Regions from separate parts of the Homo sapiens genome. Here region 1 is linked to region 2. Evidence: fine-mapped expression QTL. A gene starts in region 2. The other region holds a variant in brackets. All regions are shown on one strand. Distances are between the middles of the regions.

Region 1 (10,520 bases), 24 kb before region 2:
TACTGCGTACTATATATCAGTGAAAAATATAAACTAAATCAAAGCTATATAGATAAAGGGTAAATTCCAGGAATAAAACGTGATTTTTAAGAAATCCAGCTGCCAAATGACGATACCATACTACATGATTTATATAATGCTTAAAGACATGTGTCCAAATAATATATATAGTGTTTATTTAAAGTAAATGTATAAAGCATTCATAACATATGTAAAATGCATCCATAAAATCCATGTATTAGAAGTAACAGTATTAAAAATTGTGGGAATAATAAATTTAATATGGCTATAATCTCAATGGAAGTAAAAAGGGGTATGAGATCGAAGAGGGGTAAGATAAGCTACAATTCTAATCTGTACTGCCTTGTTTATTTTTTAAAAAACACAATTATCTGTAACAGTTGTGAGGGTGGATTAAGTATTAAGAAAAGTGAACTGTTTCATCTGCTATTGGTGGAAGGGTAAATTCCAATGTCTTTGGAAGGCAATTTGACAGTATCTATCAAAACGTAAAATGCATATACCTATTATTCATCAATTATATTTCTAGTAATTTATTCTATGAATATATTTGATGTAATAAAAAGGTAAATATAGAAAGGTATGTATTGCAGCAATGTTTGTAATAGCAAAACTTTTGAAACAACTTAAAAGGGACTGATTAAATAATGATATGTCCATAAAGTGAATATGCAAAATGAATGGGGTAGCTCTCTAATGGCTGAGAAGAAAAGATCCTTGATATAAACTGAGTAAAAACAAGCAAGGCAAAGAAGAATGGCACTGTATGTACACAGATGTGGTCTCATTGGTGTAAGAAATATATATGCTTAGAAACAAATCTGTGTAAGCATATCCATGAAAATATTTGGAAGTTTACATAAATTGTTAAAGACAGATGCTTCTATGGAGGAGAACTGAGAGAATGAGGTGGAATGAGATTTAAATTTCATGGTATATGCTTTGTACAAAAATGGGTAAGATAAACGTGCTGGGTTAAACCACTATATATTTTGACCTGTAATAGGAAGAGTTTCACACAGTTCAGTCGTCTAATATGCATGATGTAAAGCATGGCTTAGAAGGCTTCCACTATGAGTCAGGTGGATTACTTGAGGTCAGGAGTTGAAGACCAGCCTGGCCAACATGGTGAAACCCATCTCTACTAAAAATACAAAAAATTAGCCAGGTGTGGTGGCACATGCCTGTAGTTGTAGCTACTCAGGAGGCTTAGGTAAGAGAATCGCTTGAAGCTGGGAGTTGGAGGTTGCTGTGAGGCAGGATTGCGCCACTGTTCTGCAGACTGGGAGAGAGAGAGAGAGAGAGAGAGAGGGAGAGAGAGAGGGAGAGAGAGAGAGAGAGACTTCCACTATGACATTCAGAGCACTTTGACAAACAGACCATATAATAGGTCTGAAGGCCTTTTTGCTTGATTGCAAGTGGAACTTCCAGCAGCTTAGGTGAAGCAGAACAAGGGTCAGCCAGTCTCTTGGGACTGGTGATCTGGGTTGAAAAGCCAAGTGCACCAGGGTAGCAATGCGCGGTCACAGAGGCTGTGCTGGGCACAGAAACGATCTGAAGAGATGAGTTGCCAGTAGCAGAGCTTGACGATTATTAGCAAGCCTGTTCTGAGTGCAGTTTTAACAGAATGCATCTATTGGCAGGAGTGTGAGAGGCAGCAAATGCTTGTGGCTTGTTCTTGCTCTGACTGCAACATTAACTCAGCTTTACTTGGATGACTGCCAAGGAGAGCTTCAGGAAGCTCTCCTTGGAAGAGATGCAATTATCCCCTTGCCCTTTTTCAAAATTCTCTCATGTCACTTTGTAGTCTGGCTGTAGCAATGTCATGCCTGATAGCTGGTGTCTGATGTGAGCCTTAGCCAAGGGTGTCATTACCTGGAGAGGGTACAGCGATGTAACCCTACACCATGATCTATAGTGAACCTGTGAGTGCTACAACCCCAAGCTTTTACTGGTTCAACACTGAAGCCAATCTGCCAGGCAGAAGGGAAAAGAGATGATTTGTTTGCTCTGGGATTGGGTCATTGCTGGCTGACTCTGTCAGTTAAAAGGGCCTCCTCTAATTGCAGTGTTCTCCTCTTGTACGGGGTTCTTTTTAAGTGGTTTTGGAGTGTGTGTGTGTGTGTGTGTGTGTTAAATTTTATTACTTTTACTAAATTTCCCTCTATTTTTCCCTTGCAAGAGAATCTATTAAACTAATTGAATTTATTTACCTTATTTTGGTTTCTATTCGTTCATCAATTCGTTCCTCCATCAATCCACTAAACATCACCAGTATAACTGAAACTAAATATTAGACTCTGGGGATGAAAAGCGGTACACTATAGTGGTTAGAAGCATGGTTTCAGGAGTCAGGAACGTGGGCTCTATCCAGGATTATCCACTTACTTGATCTTACATTAGGTTTTCTAATCTCTTTACACCTTGGTTTCCCCAACATATAAATAGAACCTACCTCATAGTGTTATTATAAACATTAAATATCAATATAAAGAGATCTGCACAGAGGATGAAACACAGTAAGTCTACAATACATGTAAACTTTTATTAATAATGATCTATGAAAATTGTTTATTTTATCCTTACAAATGACAGCCATAGGTACAGTTCTGTACCTAGGCCATGTCTGAAACAAAGATGCAGTTTCCATCTTATTAGAGAGGATATTTTAACAGGCTCTAAACTGAGCCTCTTATTCGTGTTCAGGAAAATCATCTGAGGCTGGAGATGGATAGTCTCATATCCAAGGTCTTTGTTCAGAGAAGCCACAGGCAAAAATATGTTACCCTCTTCCTATTCTCCTATCTGTCCAAATAAAATGCAGCTTTAATGCTCTTCTGGGTGGTATAACTGAGTTTTTTCTTCTCTCTTTAGTCCTTGCGTGAGGACATTTATAACATCAACCAATCTTTCAAAAAGCTAGGCAATTCCCTTATGAAATATATTTCAAGGGTTTATTACAAAAAATATACAAATAGCTCTCTGTTCCAAAAAAATTCGTCAAACACTGTGATTTGCTATCAAGTCACAACACAAAACAGACCCGCCACAGGGCTTGGAGCCCTCCTGTAAGGTTTTGGAATAAAGACCCTTAAAGACTCTTTCTCCACCTAATGCAATCCCTCTTACACTTCTGAGCTGATCAGAATTCAATCCAGCGAAGTTTAGAAATAATTTAATAGTGTTTCATTCTTCCTGCTATTAACACCAGAGGCCAAAGTTGACAGGATAGACATCATCTTCAATAAGATTTTGAGGCAGAAACAACTGTGCTTCATGAATGAAAGCCTCTTTGCCCACAAATAAACTTGGCATAGACTATCATCTCCATTTCTCCAATTGCACCTAACTAACATTTCAGAGATTCAAATAATACAAATATATAATACACTTTGACATGATGGATTCCAGCTTCCAACATGCTGGGTTTCCTGTGACCTAAAGAAAATACTCTGAATTATTTCATGCCTTCTCTTAAGGACAAATAGCTGATTCTCATGAATAAGCTGAAAATCCTCAAAGCACAGTTAGTAATATGCAGGCTTAGGACTTAATGTCAGCTCCTCATTTTGTGTAATTTCTTAATGTGTTCCTGTTTTCAGTTCCTTTGTTTATCTGTCGTAAGTATTCAGGGATTTTGAACTCAGCCCCATGGGTAGAACCTACCTTGAATGTGTCAAAATTCAATGACCAACAGCATTTATCTTGTCACCAGTCAAGCTTCAGGTCTCAGCTCCAACATCATTTCCTTATATATACTTTTTCCCCATGATACATTCTCATATCTCCCCATCTTTTTCCTTTCTTGTACCTATCATTAATTCGAATGGTACTCTTATGTAATTATTTGATTCATACCTGTCTCCTCTACTAGATCCAAATTTAATAGAAGGCATAGTGGTATGCACTTATAATCTCTGCTACTCAGGAGGCTGAGGTGGGAGAAGCGGGAGAATTGCTTGAGACCAGAAGTTTGAGGCCAGGCCGGGCAATGAAGTGAGACCTCCTCATATTTAAAAACAAAACAAAACAAAACAAAAAACTCCTTGAGGACAGGTAGCTTCTAGTTTTGCTTTGTTTACCTTTATATTCCATTGCTTAGCAAAATCTCTAGAATTTAGCAATCAATAAAAATTATTAAATAAATGAAAGCACACATAAGAATAAATTTCCTCCAAATTGTTTTCTTTTATTTTACCTTTCCACAGTCATTCCCATATTTCTTTATGTTCATCTAATCCATATTTCATGGAATGAATTATCCCATGCATCTGGCTGAATCCCAATTAAACCTTTCCTCTCTTCCCATTGATAAGTTCAGGAAACCAACCCTTTTCCCCATTGTAACATTCCCATCTATTATGCCTTAGACCATCCCACATAAAGTAGATGTTGTGAGTCAGACACAAGGGAAAACAGAACCCAAGGAGGTAAAGGCAAAGAGATGAATGAATTTTAAGTAATTCTGAAAAATGTTAACTGTGCCTCTAAAGCACTAAAAATCTTTTCCTGAGATTTAGCCATATAAACACAAACCTAGGCATGAAATAGTTTGCATAGTACTCGTATGTTTAAAATACAATTCAACTGTAATATTCACCAATTTTGGAGATATTATAAATAACATAAAAGAAACAATTGACGCTTGGCATTTGAATTTAGTATCTGTGGTTTAGATTATTTGGGAATGACCATGAATACCACCAAGAAGTATTAATTTATACCTTGGGTAAGAATGTCTGCCCTTCATTATGGTGTTTAGAGTAATAAGTAAACATATGTCAGCACTTAGCACAAAGCAGATGTGCAAGGCACCTCTCTAGTAAAAGATCTAATTATTTTACTGGTATTCTTATTTTAATTAGTGAAATTCCATATCTGAATTAAAAGCATTCTTGATTTGAGAAATTATAACAATCTCCAGAGTTATTCCTCAGCCTGGTATAGGCTTACTGACAATTTGCATAGTCTCAGGATTAAACAAAAATTCTTCCAACTTTTAATATTACAGGTTTCTGATTATTTAATCATTCTTTCATGCACACAGCTTGACATAACAGTATTTTGGAAAAGAAAGTAAAAGAGTTAGTGAAAAGCCTCCCAGTGGGAAAACAATTAGTAAACA[T/C]GGATTTTTACCTCCTTTTTTTCCTTTTGTATCAACTCTAGAGGGTGGAAGTTCTGAGAATAAGTGAGCCTTCAGAAACTGCCATTTCTACACATAGAGGGAAAACTTGATAGCATTTCACTTGGGGCATTCAATTTATCTCTTATCTCCACAACACAAACAAGATAAAGGAGAGGATGTCTCAATGGCAGATTCAGTCTAATTTACAGCAATGGCATACCAACTGCAAGCAATGGGAGAAGAAAGACTAAGTTAACAGTGCAGGTGGCATCTGTAAGCCTTAGAGCTTTGATAGAATTTCAACAGGCTGGACATGTTCTATAGTCAGGACTAAACAAACAAACACTAAAACTAAAACAAACAAAAACCTCAAACATTTGTCAATGATTAAAAATGTGTCTTTCCTAGAGGGATAAAGGGAAAGGAAGGGTTAAAAAGGTGAGAATAAAGTTCTGGTAATAACTGATAAGCAGGAGAATGAGATTAAATAAAAGAGTAAATTCCTGGATGCCATGTACATTTTTTTCCTGTTCTGAAATAGAGAGTGCTTTGAGTTTAAGATGAGGATAATACCTTATTCCTCTGTATGCACAAGTTGGTTTGAGACAAAAGGCCCTGCCTCTTCCTGCTGCATGCCATTCTAAGAGACAGTATTTCTTTATGCTGCGGTTGTGCATTAGGCTCAGCTGGCGGAGGTCATGTCTGAATGGTGACAGAGGGAATATGAGCTTGAACTGCTATTCAAGGAAGGATAGCTCTTCTTCCAGCTCATCCACTCTGTCTTATCTCCACTTACAATTTGCTGGCTGCTAAAAATGCTTGTATCTGGTCTTTAAAAACATTCTTTACTCTCGTAGGCAACTTAAGGAATAAGATTAGTCCCAGTTTCGCCAGATATGAACTCTCTGCCTCATTATCCAGCTGCAGAAAATCCATAAGAACTCAATGAAGCTGAGTTTATCAGTCTTCATCCACTCGCTATATCACATTTTTAGGGCTCTGATGTGTCTGGGCCTTCTAGTCTCTTCCCCTTCCGTTTTCAGCCTATCAAGTCAATGTGGTTATCATTTTCAGGCACACAACTTCAACACATTCTCTGTGCTTGATTAACTTGTGGTTGGAAATAGGTGTAAGAAATAGGTGCATAGGTGCACATTTGCTGTTTCTACACTAAAGACCTTGGCACTGAGTTCCAGGTTTGAACTGGTGATCAGAATTTAGACAATTCTGAGAAAAGAGGTTCAGGTCTGACAAACCTGCCTTACTTAGAGTACTCTCTGCTCTCACTGTCAGTGATACTGGAATTTTTAGTCAAGATTCTGAGAGGCTTCCATCATCCTGGACTTTAAGGGATGGTGATGAGCTTGGGGACCCCATAGGCAACACAACCTAACTAAGGTCTTAGCAGTTTGGAACTACTTTTTTTTTTTTTTTTTTAGATGGAGTCTCACTCTGTTACCCAGGCTGGAGTACAGTGATGTAATCTCAGCTCACTGCAACCTCCATCTCCTGGGTTCAAGTAATTCTCCTGCCTTAGCCTCCCAAGTAGCTTGGGATTACAGGCACGTGGTACCACACCCGGCTAATTTTTTGTATGTTTAGTAGAGATGGGGTTTCACCATGATGGCCAGGCTGGTCTCAAACTCCTGACCTCAAGTGATCCACCCTCCCAGCCTCCCAAAGTGCTGGGAGTACAGGTGTGAGCTACTGCACCTGGCCATCTTTAGTTACTTTTAACGTTAATAACAGCTCAAGATTTATCACATACTTAACAATTTATAGAGACAATTTTTAAACAGATTGACTGTACATATTGTCCTAAATTATTATACTTACATACAATAAATGGAATGATGTATCCTTATCTAAATCTAAAGTGCTCATAAGCATTTTGACAAATTTTTCTTATTGGGGGAGGCTTTCTCTCTAAATGTGAAAAAAAAAGTGTGTAAGAACCAAACTGTTTTGTTCATATCAGAGCTTTGGAAAAAGCAAAAAGTATATCGGCAGATTATTTTCAGTAGCATTAGCATAATCTAATTAACAATGAAAATACTTGCATTTACTGGTATTCCCTAATATTTAAATAGGTATGGTTAAATGACCTCATCCAGCAGGATTTTAAAAGAGATCATATTTGAAGGTGTCCAGTGAAAGCAGCAATGAGGGATAACTTTATTATTATATTATTAATTTGGGGGTTATTTCTCCTTTCCTTCCTTCCTTCCTTCCTTCCTTTCTTCTTTCTTTCTCTCTCTGTCTCTCTCTTTTTAACTAATCAAAAGAGAGCTGAAGTATTGAGTTATTTCATTTGGATCTTATGGGTTCATGGGAATGTTCTTTGTAGAGGCAATAAAGAGTTTGCTTTTTTGGCTGGGATGACAAATTATTGAAGTTTCCAAGCCAAAATTATATTCTTTAACCTTCAGTGGTAAAATTCTGTAAGGGATTAAATAGATTCAAAGTAATTTTCCAAGTTAGAAGGACCTTTACAAAATTTGTAGAGGCCCTCATTCATGGAAACATGGTAAGGTCTTCCACGTGGGCCACCATAAAATGTGCCTCCAAAACTTTCACAATAGAGCCTCAACTCTTCTCCCATAGGTCTTTGCATTAGTCAGGGTTCTCTAGTGGGAAGAACAAATAGGATACATGTATATATGAAAGGGAGTTTATTAAGGAAAATGGACTCACACAATCGCAAGGTAAAGTCTCACAGTAGGCTGTCTGCAAGTTGAGGTGCAAGGAAGCCAGTGGTGATCAGTCCGAGTCCCAAAACCTCAGAAGTAGGGAAGCCGCCAGCGCAGCTTTCAGTCTGTGGCCAAAGGCCCAAAAGCCCCGTGGCAAACCACTGGTGTAAGTCCAAAAGTCCAAAAGCTGAAGAAGTTGGAGTGTGATGTTTGAGGGCAGGAAGAGTCTAGCACAGGAGAAAGATGAAGGCCGGAATACTCAGCAAGTCTGCTCTTCCATCTTCTCCTGCCTGCTTTATTATAGCTGCATTGGCAGCTGATTACACGGTACCCACCCAGATTGAGGGTAGGTCTACCACTCCCAGTCCACTGACTCAAATGTTAATCTCCTTTGGCAACACCCTCACAGACGCATCCTGGAATAATACTTTGCATCCTTCAATCCGGTCAAGTTGACACTCAATATTAACCATCACAGTCTGAAACCTGAAGAATTTGAAATTTCCTTTCATCTATACACAGAATGTCAAAAACCTAAACACTCATCAGAGAATTCAACAACAAAAGAGTAGAGATTCAGCAATTTTGTCAGAAGCTTGCTTCAAAATATTTAAGATGTGAGCATTAGCAAAACATGTTCACTATCCAATCCTCAAAAGATTTCTGGCCCCATTCCTTTAATTATCATCAAAAAGCAACCTACTTGAGCCGTGGTATCTTAGTTTTCTGAAAAAAAGTATCTTCCCTTTGGACTCAATATTATGTCTTTAGCTTTTAAATAGGGTCAATATAGGAAGGATCCATTTTGAGAACATTTCTGTAGCTTTGGTAAAACCATTTTTCACTGTTGCTCAGTGTCCTTTATATACAGATCTGTGTGACAAATTCTCCATAGAATTTTGTGTCAAGAAGTGTTTCTCTCCCTAAATTAATACTGACCTTCATTTTTATCAAATACTTTGTAACTTTGATCAAATATTCTTCACCCCTTCTTAATTTTAACAGAAATCTCAAGTTAACTTAAACTTGTATTGGGGTTATTGACTAATTTCAGGGATCTAGTTACTTATATTTTCTTCTCTTTCTTATCAATTTCTAATTAATATTTTTTATTATTAAGCTTTGGTCTAACATCTCAATTACATCAATTCTTTTTGAAACAGATGAGGTATAAATATAGTGACCATATACCGTTTTTTTTCAGGGACATTTTGATTTCAAGTGGCTTTATTCTTTTACTCAAAGAAGATTAGTTGAAATCAAATGATACGCTTCCACATGTATTTGTAAAAATTTCATGAAAATAAATTCACTGGCCATTGGAAATCGGAAAAACTCTGGATCCCAATTTTGGGCTGAGAGAATATTGTCACAAAGCTTTATATCATAAATAAGCCCAGCCTTACTCCAGTTCTCCAGACCCATACTTCCACTGACCATTAGCCATCTTCACTTAAGTGTTCCCCACAGACCTCAAACTCAACATATCCTTCCCATTAAATCTTGTGCTTTTTCCTAAGCTTTCCATACCTTGGCTAGTGACTAATAATTCAAGCAATTTCCTTCACTGCTCCACCCCATTCAAATTAACCATCAACTTTATTGATTTGATCTTTGAAATGACTAATTTATTGCCTCCTCTTGGTTTCTCTCTTCGACATCCTAATTTATTATTTATCTCTGGACCCTTCCTAATCTTCCCAACTATCCTCACCTACTTTTCCAATCTCTTCTCGATCCTATCATCTGAGTGTTCTTTCTAACATTAAAATCTGATTATGCTACTTTCATTTTAAAAAAATGAGTAGCTCTTGCATTATCTACAGAAAAATTCAATTTATATAATCATGACATACATAGGTGTTGTCTCTGACAGCAATACCACCAGCTCCTCCTGTAACCCAAGTGTTGTAGACTTTCACACCCGCGTTTCCCTCCCCTGTCATAGCACAACTCTCTTCAATTCCCACCTTCCTCTGGTAGGTCTGGGAAAAACTGAAAGTGAGCCAGTGCATATGAGGGTCCGCTTTTCTGCTACCATCAGCTCCTACCTGCTGCTCTCAGGTCTGGCTCAAACCTTCACCTGTTTCCCTAAGGATCATGGAATTCTAGAACAACCATCTCCCTCAACTGCTGTCACCTTTGCCAAGTAGACCTCAGTAGAAGGGTAATTCCAAGGGGCATGCCTTCTTTTCCATGTCTTATCCTTAAATTTCCCATGGACCCTTTGACCTGAGGCTGTTACGTATGACTGACTTGTATGCAAGGTTTGAAGATATTGAGAGAAAATATACAGAACAATTTGGAAGAGGGAACAGCTTAATATTAAAAATGTCACGTGAGGCAGGGCATGGAGGCTCACGCCTATAATCCTAGCACTTTGGGAGGCCGAGGTGGGTGGATCACTTGAGGTCGTGAGTTCAAGACCAGCCTGGCCAACATGGTGAAACACTATTTTTAGTAGTAGTAGGTTACTACTACTACTAAAAAAAAAAAAAAAATCTGGGCATGGTGTGTGTTGTGCCTGTATTCCCAGCTACTCAGGAGGCTGAGGGACGAGAATTGCTTGAACTGGGAAGCGGAGGTTGCAGTGAACCAAGATTGCACTACTGCACTCCAGCCTGGGTGACAGAACAAGACTCTATCTTACACACACACAAAAAAAGTCACATCATAGATCTTCA
Region 2 (10,520 bases):
AAGAAATCACTTTCTTACTTCCTCATTCCTGCTGTCTCATACCAATTCCCAGCTCCTGTCCTCTTTTTAAGAATGACCCCCTGATCCTGGTAACACAATCATGGAAGTTACAACAACTCTTAGAGCACAGGTTGGAAAAACCTCCAGGCAGAGTTGCAAAATGTAAGGTATTTCTGAGGCTGCATTTCCCATCCCTTTTCTGAACCGTCACCATAATGAGGCGGTCTGTCACTGTGAACACCCAGTGTGTGTCTTGCAAAGTGAGCACCTTGCTCATCATGCTGCTCTTAGAGAAGAGTTTGTGCTGCATGAGGCAAGAGTTCACAGTTGCTGAATGACATCTAGACCACTGTGAGTGGGAGGTGAGTTCTGACGATGACTACAGTCCCCATTAAATCAGTGTATTGAATCTCTCTTTCCATTTTATTTTTTTTTGGCTTTGGGCTTAAGGACTGTTGCTACCATGAGGGAAGTGCTCGTTGCTTGGCCTACAGCAAGTGATACAGCCTGCGAGGCACAGTCCCCAAAAGTCTAGCTGCAATTCTATTGGTGGTTTTCCCCAAACAGCAATAACAAGATGTTACCTGGAAGCACACCAGAGCCAATCATGACTCAGGCCTGTCTAGATGTTTAGATGTCTGGAAATATATTTAAAATGTCTCATGCCTTGCCTCTTGCTGCTGGTGTGAGAACCAGCAGACTTCAAGAGCACAGATAACCAGTATGATGGCAAAATCACAAAATATAAAACTTATATCAGTAACTAATTTGACTTCATTTTAAAAAAGAGCCTGTGACCCTGGCTAATATCTGGCACCAACACTGTGGTTTAAATTCACATTGGTCTTACAATGATTTACATAATTTTTTTTTATTAGAAAGTTTATCCTAATGACTTAATTACCATTTTTGAAAACAGGAATAATTTCAAACATAACATTTTTTACAATAAGGAAAGCCCAACATCCTCAAACTTCAAAATATTCAAACTAAAAATTCCATGTTTTAGTGTTTAGCCAAATTACAAGAAGGATAATTTAGCAAGAAAATGGATAAGCACCTTTGAGAATTAGATGTAAGCCTTATTATTGATTAGTGCTTAGTTCTTTTTCACAAAGTAGATTAGCAATTGATCCTACTGTGTGTAGGACCACCTAGTGTCCAAAGAATAACATCATATATTTGTGTAAAAGAAATAATTTGTAGACTGGGTCATTAGAAATATTTTTCTATCGAAGTAGAAGTTCTTGGCCATTACAGATTAATTAGCCTTCAGCTCTTCAGAAGGATAGGTGTGGCTGGTTGTGGTTTCTTATACATCTTACATGGCTTTTCTTCTAAATAGAAGACACATAGAGAACAAAAACACTTACTGGCTGTTGGTTTGTGAAATAAACTTTTCTTGCCAGGCAAATAAATTGCACTGTGAATTTTTATAAATTAACTTTTTTCATATTATAAAATGCCAAGGCAGACTCTCAAGATATTCACAACCAGAATTAACTCTGTACAGCAAGCGCATCTTCCTCTACCAAGGACAGTTCCAGAGTGTTTTCATTCGTGCTGGTTTTCATCCTGAAGTTGAAAGAACCATAGAGTTTTGCAGACTCTTTGGAAGAGGCAAATCTGTTTCGACGATAGAGCTCCCCCTTCCACATGGACATCATTAACAAGCAGGACAGGATGACGCCCCCCAGCGTGAGGAGGCAGAGCCCCGCAATCACACAGCGGTCCAGGTGAGCCCCCAGCCTCGCACTCTCCTTCTCCAGGCGCTCCATCTCCCGGGCTGCCACAGTGTTGGGGTCCACAGTCACTTCCCGTGGGACGATGTAAGAGATGATCACGAGCAGGATCCCAGTGACCAAGAACAAGATGGCGCTGATGAAACCATAGTCTATAGACTTCCCTGAAGACGTGGCTTCTGAACTTGTATCATCCTCCTCTTCAGATATCAAAGATATGGCAGCCTCTTGGGACCACTCATTTGGATTTTCCCAGCCAAGCTCCCCAGGGTGATTATGCCCTTTTGCTGATGGCGAGCTCCGGTTCCGCTGCTCCAAGTTGATGTTTTTGTCCACATAGGTAAAAGAAGTTTCTAATTCCTGGCTGCAGCAGTTACAGACTTTCCGTTCCGCTGTTATTTGGTTGTTCCCTGAGTGGAGAAGTCCTGGTGGAAAGGCATCTGGCTGAAGAGTACTGTTTTGCAGAGAGGAGGAGGGGGATGCTGGAGAAGAACTAAGTTTAGACCCTTCCATCTCGGTTGCTCTTGGGGTGGATGCACACTGTTTCTGACAGCAGAGAGCAGCTCTTGTGGCTGCTGTATCTGCCTGGTCACCAGGCAGCCCTCTTGAACTCCAGTCCCTGGCATCACAGAGGTCTGCCTGGTTGCTCTTCTTAGCAAGGTAGTGGAGCTCCATGAGAGCTAGTCAGACATCCCCCAGCAGCTTCCGGAAAGTCTGCCAATAGCAACAGAGTTAGATAAGAACCCAACAGAAGCTAAGGTTGTACTTCCAGGAGTGTTGCTCCTGGGGTCCCCATTTCCTTCACAGCTGCACCTGTTTAGCCCCTTTTCCACCTCAAACAGGCAAAAGAAGGGAGGGGATACCTAGTGGCAGGAAAGTGTGGAAGGGACAAATGCTCTCACTTGTCATAGTGATTAACACTGAGAAACTTAAGTCAGGGTAGAAAGGTGCGTGGAGGAAGTGGCAGTGTCTACTGAGAAAGAATACTGCCGTCACCAAGCCAAATTTATTCAAGGACTCGCGCATTCCTGCAAAAGGATCCCTCAAACGAGAAGGCAAGTTTCCTGTAAAAAGACAAATGAGAAAGGCAAGAGCCCTTTTTAGCAGAGCTGCCGATTTTCTGGAGGACTTGGGGAAGCATAGACTTGTTAATTCAGTAAGATTGTAAGTGTTTACACTCTCCCTAGTTCAGAGCAAATTCTAATACAGATTAGCTTTGGAGCATCACCATCAGTGAATGACTATACACCCCTATCAGCTGGGCAGGAACTCAGCATTTTGATTCCATAGCTCTGAAGTAGATGAAAAAGGCCAGCTTAATCAGCCACCTCTGCTAAGCTTACACCTCATACATCCAATGACCCTAGTGACACAGCCCTGTATTTACAAGACCATATGCTGCTTATTCACTGTGCTTCCACTTAGCCCTATTCCCTCACTGCTCCATGGGGGAAGCATGTTCTGGACCCCAAAGCATACAGGCAACAGACCTTACGGCAATCCCTGCAAAATACAATGGGCCAACCCACTCCTCCACACACACACCTGCCTGCTCCAGCTGCAGGATCTGCTACTCCCGTTCCCTGGGTCTGTGTTCCTCCCTCTCTGCATGCTTTGCTATCACACAATGCACAAGAAATTGACCATCTGGATAGTTTTACAAACCCAATCTAGAAGTGAACTGATAATAAAAGACAAACTATAAACCCACAGAGTAAGAGTTCTGTGGAGACAAATAGGTGAGAAGCTATTTCCAAGGTTACCTCTGTAATTTTATAAACATGTCACTCCTCACCCCCGACTGCAGCAAGGGGCATTTCTGGGAGAGAACTTTGGTTTGAGCAGAAAACCATCGGCTTTTCTCTGCCTCTGCCATGTTTCTAAGGAATAAAAATTCACTTTCCACTATCATTAGAGATTTTAACCAAAGGCTCCTTTTATTTTGCTTCCAAATCCAGGGTGATAATTGATTTAACCCAACGGCTTGAGGCTTCTTATAATTCAAAATCCACAGCTCCAAAGCTGGTAACAGAAACACAGGCAAGGGTCACCTAAGGTCAACCTGGCAACTCAAAATATGGGAGAGGGAATTGACATGTTTTCTGCTACACCTAAGAGTTTGTTTAAAACAAAACAAAAAAAGCAAAACAGAAAACGTTTTTCTCCTGTTATCGGAGTTTCTCTACAGTGAAAACAGCAAAAAACAACAGGGCAAAAGAATCACTACTAAACTAGAACAAACCCCCACTAAAGGATCCCTCAATGAATGAAGTGATGGTAACAGGCTTCATCAATTACCGATAACTCTTCTTCCAGTTTTCTCAGGCATTAGGGGCTCTGATTAACCTTTGGTACCATTAACTCATCACACTAGCCTACCTTGGATAAAATCAGCAGGGTTCTTTGAGACTTTCAGTTTATAACAAAAGAAGAGAGAAATCCCCACTTAATTCCCTACGGCCGCCTCTACCTCTCTTTAAAGAAAAGCTACTCCCGCTTGTTCGCTTGTTCTACCGGAGGTATGCTAGCAGCACAGTCGATTTCCTTTGCAGCTCCCTAATCCGGGGTTTCCATTCTCAGTGGAGAATGGATAATCCCAGGGGACCAGCTAAAGACTCTTTTCTTCCGTCCTCTCCCTCTTTTTCCTCTGATCTGCTTAAAAGCCCAGTTAACGACATTGCACCTTAAAGCGAGGGGACACGCACTTTCCCTCGTCCATCTGTCATCAATTAAAAGCATTAATATTTGCTTTAAACTGACACAGGCAAGGCTGATCTCGGGGAGGCGACCTCTGGATGCGCCCTGTGCGAGCAAAGCCGGGAGAGCGAGCCCCAAGCACCTGGCAGCGGTGCCCCCAGCAGGCGCCGAGGAATCCGGCTATCCATTTCTGGTGAACTCTGCGCCCACTGAGGCATTCGAGGTACGGATGTGTCCGCCTAGTACTCGGAGACGAAGGAGAGAGAGCGGGGATATGCGCTCCAGCTCTGCTAGGCTCCAGGGCTCTCACCCTTGCATTCAAAGCCTCCACCCCATCCCACTCCCCGCCACTCACCTTCTGCTTCGGCCACCCGGTGCGGCTCCAGCACCGCGCGCTCTCCCGGCACGGTTCCCGGAGAAAGTCCCCCAATCACCAGCTACGGCACTTGTAGCCTCTGCACGCCGCTCGGCTCCGCCGGGTGGGCAGCGCCCGCCACGGCGGGCGGGGTGGGGCGGGGCGGGGCGCTCCCGGAGCATCCCGGGAGTTGTAGGCCAGGGGCGGTCCCTGCATCCCTCCTGTCTCTGTCTCCTCCCACGCCTTCTGGGTTTTACCCTTCCTGCAGATGAGTTCCCGCCATACCCTCTTACTCCTCCCCAGCACTTAAGAAGACAGCACTGTTTTCTAAGCCTAGAGTGGAGTTCCCTAGCCTCAGGTGTGGCCACAAGACTGTGAAAAGGAAAGTATATTCGACTTCAAATGTGCCAGATAATTTGCATATTTTGTCTTTTTAATAGTCAAAACAAATCTTCCAAGTAGATTTTATTAATCCTCATTTTACAGATGTGGAAACAGGCTCAGAGAGGGTAAGTGCCTCATCCACAGTTACCAACAGCAGCTTCTGAAATTGCATCCAGGAGTCAGATTCGAAAGTCATTGCGTGTCTCACAAAATCAGAAGAAATATGACCATAAGGGGTAAGAGATTGTCCGATGTACCAACACATCCCCTGTATTTAGCACAGTGGTATTCGTTGAATGTATGAATAATAATGACTCAAAATAACAGTTAACATAAATAGCGCTTATTATTGCCAGGCTCTCTTCTAAGCACTATAGATACATTATCTCATTTAATGGTCACAATTTATTGTTAAAGTACTGTAAAAAAAAATCCTCATTTTAACAGAAGGCAAAACTGAGTTACAAAGTAGAATAATTTGCCCAATGTCACACAACTAATACTTAGCAGAGGTGGGGGGGGGGGGATGAACACCAACAGATTCTAAGCGTTATGCTATATGGAATGAATGGAAGAAAGACCAGAAGGCCAGAATAAAAGGGCTCAGGAATAAAGGAAATCTGAAGGTTGAATCTTCTGAGTTGTGACTCTTAGGATAGGACAAGGTAACTGTGTCACCAGCCTCTTTCAACCAGAGTGGACTGCAATAGCCAACAGCCACTGAAAGCCCAGGGTATGTGTAGCTTGCAGATAATCTCCAGTTTTCCAGCATCCTGTTGGGACAATTCTAGGGGAGCAAAAAAGGATTATAGTATGGATGGGCTGGGCACGATGGCTCACGCCAGTAATGCCAGCAATTTGGGAGGCCGAGGCGGGCAGATCACGAGGTCAGAAAATCGAGACCATCCTGGCCAACATGGTGAAACCCCGTCTCTACTAAAATAGAAAAAATTAGCCGGGCGTGGTGGCGCGTGCCTGTACTCCCAGCTACTCAGGAGGCTGAGGCAGGGGAATCGCTTGAAGCCGGAGGCGGAGGTTGCAGTGAGCAGAGATCGTGCCACTGCACCACTCCAGCCTGGCGACAAAGCAAGACTCCGTCTCAAAAAAAAAAAAAAGAAAAAAAGAAAAAAGGGATTAGGGATTATAGTATGTATTATGACATTGTGCTTGTAGCTCACATAAATACTGTGGTTGCTTGCTTTCAAAAGAGAGATCTATCTCCTTTAATGACAATTATGTTGGTATTTCATTACATTGGATAGAATCTATAGTCACATGATTACAGGAGTTCACAATGCTCCCTCTTTAAAATTCTTTTTCCCCCATATGATTATATTTGTAGCCAGTGAGGCCCATTTGTTGATAAACATGACAGATGTATTATGACTTCTCCTTTGCTTACTACACGGTTCTCCAGCATGAATATCTTTCCTCCACTGCCCTATTCCATCCACACTTCAAGGACTAGTTTGTCAAGCCAAATCTACAGGGATGCATCCAGTTCTTAGTACTACATATGCAAAAAGAAATAAAGAGAGAAACTAAGATGTAGAAGGAACTTGAATTTATGTTGACGAGGAAAAACTTAGGAACTTAGGCTATTTAGCCATAGGAGAATACTGAGAGGAAACAATAAACTAGCTTCAAATATTCTGAAGTTTCTAAAAATAGAAGAAGAATTCTATAGTATATTTAAAAGGGTAAAAGCAGAACAAATAACAATAATACTTTTTTGTTAGTGCTATTATGTTATCATCTTTAATTTTTACACCAACTTCACAAGGGAGGCAGTATTATTGCACCCATTTTGCAATGTAGAAATTGAGGCTTGAAAAGATGTAGTTTCTTTTCCAAGGCCTGAAAACTAATATCGGGCAGAGCTAAGGTTCTAACTTGGGTCTGTGTGATTCCAGAGACTTGATCTCTTTGCCAACACATTATACTGAGCAATGCTTCACAATCTTTTTTACAGCAGAGTACACATAAGAGGTGATACTATTTATGGCAATGTGATAAACACAGGAGGTTTCTCATGGCCATAGTTCTGGGGCTGTGGGTACTTCAGTCTCTGCAGGACAGCTTGGAGGGCTAAGGAAATAAATAAGTCAGCACACCTGTGACACACTGGAGTGCTGGAGGATGCCAAAGCACTGATCTGAGAAGCTCTGGATAGCACTATTAAATTTAAGAAGGAGGCTGATTTGAGACTTTGTATAAGGAAGGACATTATTTCTAAAACTTTTAAATTGATGTCTCATGAAAGCAAATTCTCTGGTACTGGTGAGGATTAAAAAAAAAAAGGAGAGCCATTTATTAGTGATTTCATAGAAGGGATTCATCTAGTTGGATTAGAGGACCTCTGTGATTCCCAGGCTGAACTGATTTTAAGTTACTTTTTTTTTTTCCCTGAAGCCTTTTTCTTCCAAGGATTACACCTCCTGTGAACTTTGCTGGGACTTGTCAGTACTGGTGTTTTTGATATTTATCATCCACTGCTTTACGACATTTCTGGAATGGCTAGGTAGCCACTGCATGTGGTTTAACTTCTCACTTAGGTGCCTAAATCTCTAAGGTAATCAATCATAAACTCCTTAAGGTCAGCATCTACATGCTGAACACCTTACCTCCTGCAGAAAGTGCAGTATTTCTGTTGAGAGGGAAGATGTCAAGACTGAACTGAAGACTCGAGATGATTACCTATAATAATACTTGACTGTCTACATATTCTTGAGCATTAAAAATATATCAATTCCAACCAACACCACAAAATCCCCTTTAAAAGTCTGCTGACAAAAAATAGAGATGAACCAATTGAGCACTTGAAAATAAAAGCTCTGCAAAAATTGCCACTTGCTGGAATACTTTCCCCCTCTCTCATAAGTCTATGTCTAAAACTTTCCTGAAAATTGACCCAAGAACCTTTTTCAAAAGCCTTTCTTGTTCAACGTCCTCAACTTATCGTTACCTTTCTAACTGGCTTTCTAGTAGCATAATATGCTTTCTTTTATGCTGTTATTTTAGATATAGAAAAGTATTTCATGTATATTTTATAGTGCTTTCTATGTGATCTCTCCAGATAAAATTTAAGCTCCTTGAGAACCAACATATTCTTTCTATTTCTTTGAAGCTATATGTGGGCATGAAATAGTGCGACACATAGGCAACAGTAGTTCCTCAATATATGCTGATAAAACAATTCACAGTTGTAAAATGTTATCTAGAAATCTACATAATGATTTTGGTCTTACTCTAATTTTAATGTCTCACATTTTCCTGTTTACTTATACTCCGTTTCATGTGAGAGGAGCAATCGTTACTACACTAAGTTAACTAGTTGAAAAATAAGAAAAATTCTGAGAAGTAAATTTACCATGTAAATCAAGGGTAGTGCTGGGACTTTTAACAACCAGCCTCTTGTAATAATTACTGAGGATGTGTTCCAGTTTCTTTTTCTTCAGTAATAATAATAAGGGCTGATTAGTGGACTATTAAGGGATTATTAGTGGAGTTATTATTATGAGAGGCTGGGTCCTAGAGAAGTAAGAAAGACATTTTTGGAATAGGCTGGAGGGAGGATCAGTCATTGAATAGGGATAGCATGAGGAATATGGTCCTATACCCCATACTGGTGCTAAGAATGAAGGTGACCATAATTTAGAGAATGAAGATCTTGTTAATGAACAAGATTCTAGGAACAAAAAAAAGCATTAAATTAGAAAGGTTTCCATTTAATAAGAATGCTTACAGTGGCCAAGTAGGCATGTTACTTAAATAAAGTGGCTGAATACAGACAATAGGGATGGGGAAGATTACCGAAGTTAAGAGCAAGTGCCTTTCCCAAAAGGGGCAGTATCCCCTAACTGTTCTACCTGAGTTTTGTCTTAAGTGAATTTAGACATTAATGAAAGTCAGATATCACAATTTGTTATTCAAAATTCAATGTATTTTAAACCCTTAATGAGTCAGAGAAAAAAAAAATTATTGGGAACATTTGTTTCCCGTAGTAATAGACTAGGTAATTTAGACCTACTCACTGCATTTGGCTTTGAAGAAATGTATTTATATTTGAAACATTTAGAGAACCCAAAATTATTGCATCCAAGGAGCAAAGATTTTTTTTTTCTATCTTTTGGGGAGGGGTGGAAAAGATAGTTTTCTCTTGCTTCTGTATGTAAACACACTAAATTATTTTTTTCTCTTGTTTCTCATCTGTGATACAGACTTCAAAGTTTGTACGCCTAGGACATCTGACCTGGCTTTCACTGTGTTGTGCCAAGGGTAAGAATTGGGATCCAGAGGACCGCATGGTCATTATTTGCTCTTAAGTAAATCATCTGTTTCTGATCCAACACCATGTGTACCTTCAGGATAAAATTAATAAATATGAATATTAAAAACACAACAATAAAACTCAAGAAAAGAAGCTAGCCACTAAAAAATACACAATGTGCAGTTCTATTACATAATTTCATTGATATTTAGTTAGTTAAGAGGCAAACTATACCAAAGTATTTGGAGATGTTAGCAAAACAATAAAGAAAAGCAAGAATGCAGTTACCATAAATGTCAAGAGGTAGGTTGCCTTTGTAAGGGAAGAAAAGAGTAGTGATTCTGAGAAGACTAAAGGGGAGGCTTCTGAGACCTGGCACTATTTCTTGACCCGGATGTGTTTACAAGGGTGTTCTCTTTGAGCTAAATTATCGGAGGTAACCCTCTTTATTTCATGTACTTTTCTATATGCAGTTGTTCATGATAAAAAGCTGTTGGATTGGATTCAGCTGTTGGAGTGGATTCAGGTTCCAAACACCTAATTTGCAATCTCTGCATTAAGGGTTTATATCAAAATCTAAGCGTTCTGTTTTACCTTAAGAAGAACCTGAAGATAGTTTTCTCTGACTTACCTTCACCTGGCATCTTGCTATGCATGGCAGGGTGAGGAGTGTACAAAGGTATGCTATTCAGATTCTCCCGAAACGCTTACAACATTAGGATTTAAAGTAATCTGGGCACTGATATCTCAAAATAAGAAATATGGAAACATTTCATGTCTAATATTTTGTATATAAACTTTATGACACCTTTAGAAAGCACAATATGGGGAGAATATTGGACATTGGTAGAAGGATTTGGGTCTGTTGGTTGCATAAAGGCCCTGTTGTCTTTAGGCCACAGATTTCCTTTATAATTAAACTTACTAGAAACAAGACTGCATTCACTGGCCCTAATCTTGTACCTTCATTTTCTTTTTAATCTACTATTGCTGTTAGGGTCCATGTTAATTTAATTAAGTAAAAAACACAAGTTGACAGCTATGGGTTGAATCTGATCTAAATACATGGTTT

Which allele goes with the higher level. Positions count from the first base shown, and alleles are read on the strand shown. Sizes are in standard deviations (SD) of each study's normalised expression.
As copies of T replace C in region 1, the expression in left ventricle of the gene that starts at base 4,913 in region 2 goes down (moderate effect, 0.54 SD a copy in GTEx).

The links. PIP is the estimated chance that this variant, and not a neighbour inherited with it, causes the effect. A credible set is the group of variants that fine-mapping cannot tell apart.
Region 1: its variant is the best candidate, but not a certain one, in a credible set for the expression of TMEM74 in left ventricle (GTEx, PIP 0.88).

The regions. Positions count from the first base shown.
Region 1 is chr8:108,758,843-108,769,362 of GRCh38, forward strand. The region is part of intron 1 of LOC102723368 (a long non-coding RNA gene); the gene reads right to left. It also overlaps a transcript of TMEM74 not described here. Among named protein-coding and RNA genes, the nearest start is that of TMEM74, 23 kb to the right of the region's middle. The variant T/C (reference allele first, on the strand shown) is at 5,147.
Region 2 is chr8:108,782,682-108,793,201 of GRCh38, forward strand. It overlaps TMEM74 (transmembrane protein 74), which reads right to left and starts at 4,913. Exons shown (of 2, transcript NM_153015.3): 1 at 4,795-4,913; 2 at 1-2,456. The coding sequence starts at 2,417. The coding sequence ends at 1,500. RefSeq lists silencers at 4,139-4,433, 4,849-5,028.